2 separate regions of the Homo sapiens genome follow, and region 2 is linked to region 1. The links come from fine-mapping of genetic effects on gene expression. Tissue or cell type: whole blood. Region 1 holds a variant in brackets; the other region holds the start of a gene. All regions are shown on one strand. Distances are between the middles of the regions.

Region 1 (4,337 bases):
CATTGCCTGCATTTATTTTTCTTGCCCCTTCTCACTCACATGTCCCTTCTGGTCATATGCTGTGGGTAACAACACAATTGAGTTTGATAACAGAATTAGTATAAATCAGACCAGTTCATAAATTCTATTTCCCTATGACACTGCCCAACATCAAACTTCACTTTATCTTCCCAAGATGTGTTCCTTCCTGACTTATCTGGGTCAAATGTATAAGATTCCTTCTCCTTGGAGCCTGGTGGGGATTTCACAGTAATCTTTGATCACTTTCTCTCTTCAGCCAATCCACAATCAGATCCTGTGAATCCTGCCTCTGCAATGGCTCCTCTGTCCCCTTGTTTTCTGTCCATTTCCACTGCTAACTCCTAGTCCAGATCTTCCTGTCAAAGCTCCTGCAGGGACCTCTGAAATGACTTTCATGTCTTCAGTTCTCTCCTTCCAACAAACTTACACAAAGAACCAGGTAAAATTTCCTAATGCTCAGCTCTGATCACATCACTATTATGTCTGGATCTCTCTTTATTGTTTACAGAATGAAACCCAAAGTCTTCAGCCTTTGCCCACTGCTTTTCCACTCAGCCTTCCACTCCCACTATGCCCTCTAGTCAAATTGGATTCACAACTTTCCAAACTAGTAAAGCCTTCTTAAATGAATGAGACACAGAAGTATGTGAGCCTTGGCCACCTTAAGACTTTCCATCTCCCTACAATACCCTGTCCTTCAGGTCTACATGTAAAGATCCAACCCATCCTTTAGGCAGAAAAGCTCCCCATTCTCAGGTCCCATAGTCCTCAGTTCATATCTCTTTCATGACATTTATCATTATTCTTTTTGGTTTGGTACTTATCGTGTGTGTGTGTGTGTGTGTGTGTGTGTGTGTGTGTGTGTGTGTTATACTCCTTTTCAGGATGGAGGCTTGTTCTTTTTAGATTTGCTACAACTCCTTGCACAAGGTCTAGCACCTCAGAGGGACTAACAGATGTCTGTGGAATAAATACATTGTTTTATTTATTGAATTGATTTCACCCAAAGCACACTTTCTACAAGTTATTTAACCCCAAAGCTTAGTTTGCTAATAGAGTTCTCTGACATTTAGGCAAATTTTATTGTATTATGGATAAAAACATTTTAATTATATATCAGCAAGTTATATATATATATGTGTGTGTGCATATATATATATATATATATATATATATATATATATGAGCTGTAGGTATTTATTTTTCTGTTGGTGACAATCTGACAGCCAACTTAGGGGCTGCCTGTGATAATAATACATGTCCTATTGGCCAAGAAGTGATTAAGATGGCTGTGGGGACAAGTTAGACCAGGGTCAGATAAATGTTTTTGGCTGCTAGGCTGTGTTTTCTAGAGAAGGAATTTGACAAGGGGGACAGAGTGCTTCCCAGCATAGGATGATGCTGGCAATCTGGGGCAGGTACCATATGTGTCTTCTGATATGTCCAGAGATAGCAGATGTTTCTTTGTACTGCACTTTCCTTATTTATACACATGAAAGAGTGTCCCCTGATTCTTAAATTAATGGGAGTCATGAATCCTTTCAGTACCTCAACCTCTGGCCAAAGGAGGAACTTTGTCTGCTCCCACCAAGAAGCAGGTGCCTCACCCTTTCCTGTTAACAGGTGACTACTGTGCCTGCACATAACCACCACTGCCCAATCTAGGAGGATGTCTCTCTCCCTTATTTGCTGATTGTGGCTGCCCAGCCCAAGGGGTTTCCTGCTAGGGTGATAACACATTGTTCTTGAACAGAGAGAAATAACTTAGAGGGATCATCTTGTCCTAAGATGTTGTGTTGCCTCTCAGAGTGGAAATCTACCTTGTAAATACTCTCTTTGTTCTCTGAACAGTCTGTTGTCTCTGTCCACACCACAACTATGAAGTTATTTATCAGGAACATCAGTGTTAATGGGGGTGAAATGGTGGGGAAGTGGTTACTCTGGTGGAGACTGAGAAAAAAACAGATGGAGCACTTTCCTTCTCTGGCAATTAGGCTTAAATGATTCTTGAGTGGATTCCCCAGTAGCATTGATTGTCACAATGCCCACGTTAACCACTCATGCTCCTGGCTCTCAATACAACACACTTCCCAGAAGGGAATCTTTCCTCCCCAGACTAATAAAATTGGCTACCACAGATTAAGTGTAAGAAACCACTAGGGGATTGTCTAAAAATGCAGTTTCCTGGACTCACCTCCAGAGAGTCCAAGTCTGTGGGTCTAGGATGATCCCTCTAAGTTATTTCTCTCTGTTCAAGAACAATGTGTTATCACCCTAGCAGGAAACCCCTTGGGCTGGGCAGCCACAATCAGCAAATAAGGGAGAGAGACATCCTCCTAGATTGGGCAGTGGTGGTTATGTGCAGGCACAGTAGTCACCTGTTAACAGGAAAGGGTGAGGCACCTGCTTCTTGGTGGGAGCAGACAAAGTTCCTCCTTTGGCCAGAGGTTGAGGTACTGAAAGGATTCATGACTCCCATTAATTAAGATTAAGTGAATGGTGGAGTGGAAAAATCCCACAAAAAAGACATGTGCCAGAGTTTCTGAAATTAGAGACAGCAGAGATCAAAGGGATTCTTTAAAGA[C/T]CTCTTTAAATCCTGTGGATTAAAAAAAAGAAGTAATTAGGCAGGCAAAACCATTATTGAAATCCCAAGATGTACAGTAAAATTTCAAAGCCCGGCTGGTTTGGTTGCTAGAGGAGTTGGAGGGTTGGGAGGCCCTAATACAAGACCACTTAGTCTATCCTTCACCCCTCACTAAATGTTTGGGTCTGGGGCACATCTAGGGAATCCTAGGGTTCTATGGAGTTCAGTTTTTGTTTTTAATCCTTTAATTGAATGATAAGGAAACTGAGGCCCAAAGAAGCTAGAAGCCTAATAGCCCAGTACAAGTTAATGACAGAGCAAGGTTAGAATTCAGGACTCTTGGCTGAGTGTTCTTTCTGCTCCTTGTAGAGGTTTGGCGCAGGCTAGGAAACAAAGTCAAAGGAGAAATAGAATAAAGTTCCAAAAAGTTACTAAGAAATAATTTAGGCATATGAATTATAGTAGAAGAAACTCCCAATAATAGTCATGAGCATGATATTTCTTCAAGTGTTCTCTGTAGACCTTCAGCATCAGAATCCCCCAGATTTCTGGGGACCGTTGTTAAAAGTGTGTATTTCTGGTCTTCATCCTAGACCCACAGACTTGGACTCTCTGGAGGTGAGTCCAGGAAACTGCATTTTTAGACACTCCCCTAGTGGTTTCTTACACTTGACAATGGCATGCTCTGTCCCCTCCAGCAGTGGCCTTCACACCAAAGCAGGATAGGATAGCACTTAACAGAATGTGTCAGCTGCATACCATCCCCTGTAACTGCTGTTACTTGGTTTTTGACTTTTAAAAATACCTTAGGTAAGGCCAAGTGTGATGGCTCACACCTGTAATCTCAGCACTCTGGGGAGCTGAAGCAGGAGGATTGTTGGAGCCCAGGAGTTTAAGACCAGCCTGGGCAACATAGCAAGACCTCCATCACTACAAAAAAATTAAAAAGAAAAAATAGCCAGGTACAGTGGTACGCACCTGTAGCCCCAGCTACTTGGGAGGCTAAGGTGGGAAGATCACTTGAGCCCAGTAGTTTGAGGCTATAGTGAGCTATGATTGCACCACTGCATGCCAGCCTGACTGACAGAGCAGGACCTTGTCTCAAAAATAAAATAATTAATTATTTTCAAAAAGCAGGATACAAAATAACAGCAAAGTAGAAGGGATAAGTTCTAGAGTTCTACAACACTGTAGGATGATTATAGTTAACAATAATATATAGTTTCAAATAGCTAGAAGGAGGATATTGATGTTCCCAACACAAAGAAATGATGTTTGGGATGATGGATATGCTAATTACCTTGATCTGATCACTTATACATGATATGTATCAAAATATTACCACGTGCCTTAAGAGTATGTACAATTATCACTTGTTAATTTTAAAAAATGAAATTAATTTTTAAAATTGTCTTGCCACAACTCAATGCAAGAATTGGTACCTCAGGAACGTATTAACTCATACCAGAGCAAACACAAACTAATTCCTGTAACAGAGCAGAATGTGGCAAGTGCTATAAGAAAGTGAAAATAAAATTCTATGGGAGCCCAAAGGTAGACAGATTGCCTCCCACTGAGGCAACTTCTGAAATAATTGATATTTGAGCTGGGCCTTGGAAAGGAGCCGCTATGTCCCCAGAGGGCAGGGAACTGGGGCAGAGTGCATTTTAGACAGAATGAGGAGGCAGAGCAGAACCAGTGAGGTAGCAAAGTTCTATTTGTCCAGAGTACG
Region 2 (4,159 bases), 22 kb after region 1:
GGGCTCTACCATGAACTAAGCTGATAGGAGCCAAAGGAATTTCCTCAAGTCACTTGTATATGAAAAATGGGATCCTTAGTGGTCTTCACTTTTTCTATTTCAAATCCTAAAATACAGTTGAAACCGCCCATGCCAACAAAACTTTACGAAACATCCCACATGTTGAAGAGTGACTAAAAGAACCTGCTCCCAAGAAAAACAAACTTACTTCTTTCCTTATTCTTTTCTTTCACTTACCCCTTTCTCCTAACCCTAAACCCAAAAAACCACAAAGACTGACGCACTAACTGCTCAGAAAAAGTAGAACCTCTCACACTTCGGGGTGATTAAATTTTACCTCTGGCCCCGGAGGATTGGTAGAGAGATTCGACTTAATCACCAAGCCGGGGCTGCAAAAAAGCCAGCTTACCAGGGCACCTCACTCAAGTACATCTGGGAAGTAGGGGTCTTTAATTTACATTACAGATCGTCAGAAGCAAGGATAAGATAAATCAGATCATTTGGGGGCTGAAAAAAACGACGGTCGAATATTTAATCTGCGAAACTTGGCAGTGGATTTGAATAAACCCACAGTCGGGGAAGTTAGTTAAATTGGTTTGGGAAAGGGAACAGCAGAAATTCCGTAGTGGCAGCTGACGGCCACAAGACGCTATTTTACATGAGTAAAAATGCTTGCTATAAGGTGCCCGGTTGCAGGCGACCGAAGGCGCAGTGATGGAGAACTGACGCGGGTGACTTGTCTTCTTCAACATCACACACTTCTCCCGATGGCTGATGTAGTGCTCCCCTGGGAGCACCCTCTGCTAGTCCGGCCAGACGGTTCCTTAAGGTGTCAGGAGGGCCCGAACCTGAGTGCGGTCTCTCCGCATCTCCGCGCCCGGGGTTAACGATGGCTTGGGAGTGTGGGCATTGCTCCCGAGGCCAGGGGCAGGAGGACTGGTGGTTTAGAAGCAGAGGGGTTTGCGGGAGAGAAGAGAACAGAAAATCTCGCAGACGCGCGGTGGCCTCCCTTCCCGGCGCCTGTCCGCCGTTCCCGGCCGGAGGTCAGCAAGGCCAGTAGGATCCACCTTCCGCCTGCGCTGTGGCCGCGGAGCCCCAAGCGAGTCGTGCCAGCCCCGCGGCTGGCCAGCGAGGGGGCGAGCGGCGGACGCAGCGCGGCCCGAGCTTCCCGAGCCAGTCACTTTGGGCTGCGTCCCCCACGTCCATTCCTCCTCAGACGGGGCGAGTGGGCGCCGCCTGGCATTGAAGCTGCAGCGCGCTCACCTGTACTGGTCGAACTTGGCGTACATTGCCCACTCGGTGGGGTCGCTCTCGTAGGCTTCCATGATGGCCTGCACCTCCTCTACATTGACCTCATCGCCGGCAAAGAGCTGGTGCAGGATGCGGATCAGATCAGCCAGGGTCCGTGGCTTCAGCACTTCGGTCTGTTCCATCTCGTGGGGAGCTGGCTGCGCGCGCGTCTCACTGCTGGGCTGCGGTGGAGGAGCTGAGCGAGCCAAGGAGCTGGGGGCGAGGGAGCCTAACAGCCCGCTAGACCGCTAAGCAGACACACACGCACAAACCCAGCATTAGAGTGCCGAAACGTAAGGATGTCGTCGCAGAGACAGCAAGAGACCCACCCCCAGGCCCCTGGCAGCGCAGTGGATCCGGGATCGCTGGAGACGCGGTGCACACACAAATCAGGTTCAGATCTGTGGGGTTCATCCTCCCGGGCCCCTTTTAAGCGCTTGGAGTCACTAGGAATGTACCAACGGCCCTCGGAGGGAGGACGAGGCGGAGAGCCACCCAAGAAAGGTGGCGGAGGCGGGGAGACCCTGCGGGCACGGCTCACGCGCACATCCCCGGCTTCCCCGGGCTCCGCGCCTTCCCAAGAGCCCCGTTGTCTCCGGCGTCCCAGGGATCGCGTGGGCTCCGCGCAATCTCTCCCCCACTTTAACGGCGCGTTTTAGCCGCCCGGCCTAACGCCTCTCCCCGCTCCACCTCCGCCGCTGTGGTTCGCGACGCTGGGACGTAGACAAAAAGGGTCGGAGGAGATGGCTGCGGGGACTGACGCTGAGTAAAGGAGGAAAAGAAAAGGGAAGGAGAGGGACACTTCTTCCAAATAGAGAATTGTGAGGAGCCTGCGAAAATTGAGGATGGATTCCACTCCTAGGCCAGAGAGTGCCTGTTTTGTCGATTGAAACTATCCACGATATGCCCCAGGCTAGGTGAAAATAAGTCCAAGACTTTATATATATATATATTTAAGTATACACACACACATATTTTTTAAAATGCGTACTGAAATATATTTTGACAAAGGAGACTCGGGTCTCTAGTAAGACAATTAGTGAAATGATGGAAAACCAAGAACTCTTTGATTTTAAAATCAAATATTTTCTTTTAAAAAATATCCAGTGCAAATAACCTGATATTTCATTTGATGGTGTAAAAGGGGGCTTTTTCTGAGGGGATAGGGCGGGCTCTGACGCAATAATTTAAGAGGCTATAATTATATTTGAATCTTTCAACCTTAGGCATGTGCTTGAAGGAGCCTGCTAGTACATACATATAAGGAAACACGTTTCTACGTCATGCATAGCACCTAGTACGTTGGGAACAACACAAATCAAGTACAGTAGGATTTAAATGAGAAAGATGTGAAAGGTGGAAGAAATGCAAGTGTAGATTTCTTCCTTCTCATTATGGATGGACGCAGGGAATAATTTGGATTTAAGGTTATTAAAGTTCTAGACTTCTGAAGACCTGTTTTTTTCTAGACTATGATCACCCTCCCTCGTGTATATACATGTATACAATGAAATTTACTTGTGCCAGGTAGTCTTAAACATCTCTGGTAAAACTCGCTACATTATATTCTAACAGTGTTGTTAAAAGCGGAATCACCTATTGTTCAAAAATGGCTACAAGTAGAAAGCATTCCAGAAGCCAGCCTTGGTGATGTGTGTTGCTGCGGGGTAGTGAATTAACAAAGTATTTTGTGACAGAGTAACCTGTAAACTTTTCATGGTTTCCTCAAATTATTTTTTATTCTTGGCAATGTTTTCTATTGAGTCTCTTAATTACTTCATTTCAGCTAGTCTAATCCATAAATGTTTGGAATGAACAACAAAAATGAAATGCAAGCACAATTTATCTTTTCTGCATTTCAGTTGATAAAACTTCTAAATTTTTCTGACAATTCATTTTCTTTCTCTGACTCCTCTTTTTCTTTTTACATTTTTATGAAAGTAATATATTCACGTAGTTAAAAAAAATCAATAGTACTGGAAGGTCAATGAAAAGCAGCAGGCCCTTTTAACCATTCCTGACCATCTGTCCTGTGCTTAAAGAGTCAGTCTCTTAACTCTTCTAACTATTCCTTGTGGTAGTTACTTCCTTTTTCCAAAAATAGGCTTATATTTTTTTTTGTTTCAGCAATTTTAGATATTATCTAGTCATTTTACATTATGATAGCTCCATTCGTTTATTATTCATTCATTAATTTATTCAACAAATGTTTTTTCGGGTGAATAGAAATTTTCATTTCACCTGAGTAAATACCTAGGAGTGAGATTGCTGGGCCATTTAGTCAGTGCATGTTTAAATTTGCAAGAAATTGACATACTAATTTGCAAAGGGTCTGTGCCATTTCACATTCTCAACAGTGATGTATGAGTTCTAGTTGCCCCGCATCCTCGCCAGGTATTGTCAGTTTTACCAATTTTGGCCAAATAGAGGTGTGCTGATATTGCATTGTGTTCTTCATTTTCTATATCTCTAATTCTTATGGGCAGGTCTTTGTTCTTAGAGCTCCCAAGATGGTGGCCACCGCTCCCAGGATGGCAGCAAGCCTTTTGTTCTCTGAACTGGGGTTCTTGGCCTCATGGATTCCAAGGAATGGAACCTTGGACCATGCGGTGAGTGTTATAGCTCTATTAGAAGCCGTGGGTCACAGAAGAGAACCGTGGAACCCAGCTACTAGTGTTCAGCTCAAATAGGACGAACCCGGGCACTTAGCCATGCAGGAACAATGGCAAGCCTTTAGCCGGATCGGGAGTGGCAATGGGTGCCTCGCTGGATCAGCAAAGCAGCGGACACCCTGCCGGATCTGGAGGGGTGGAAGTCGGTGGCGGGTCTGTGACAGTGGCAAACAGCAGTGGTGAAAAGCGAGCGAAAG

The links. PIP is the estimated chance that this variant, and not a neighbour inherited with it, causes the effect.
Region 2: CDO1 starts here. The variant in region 1 is fine-mapped to the expression of CDO1 in whole blood (INTERVAL, PIP above 0.99). The same link has a PIP of 0.9 or more in T cells and blood mononuclear cells.

What each region holds. Positions count from the first base shown.
Region 1 is chr5:115,792,604-115,796,940 of GRCh38, forward strand. No RefSeq gene overlaps it. Among named protein-coding and RNA genes, the nearest start is that of CDO1, 22 kb to the right of the region's middle. The variant C/T (reference allele first, on the strand shown) is at 2,606.
Region 2 is chr5:115,814,965-115,819,123 of GRCh38, forward strand. It overlaps CDO1 (cysteine dioxygenase type 1), which reads right to left and starts at 1,695. Exons shown (of 5, transcript NM_001801.3): 1 at 1,264-1,695. The coding sequence starts at 1,433. LOC124901049 (a long non-coding RNA gene) reads left to right here and starts at 2,124. Exons shown (of 2, transcript XR_007058908.1): 1 at 2,124-2,207.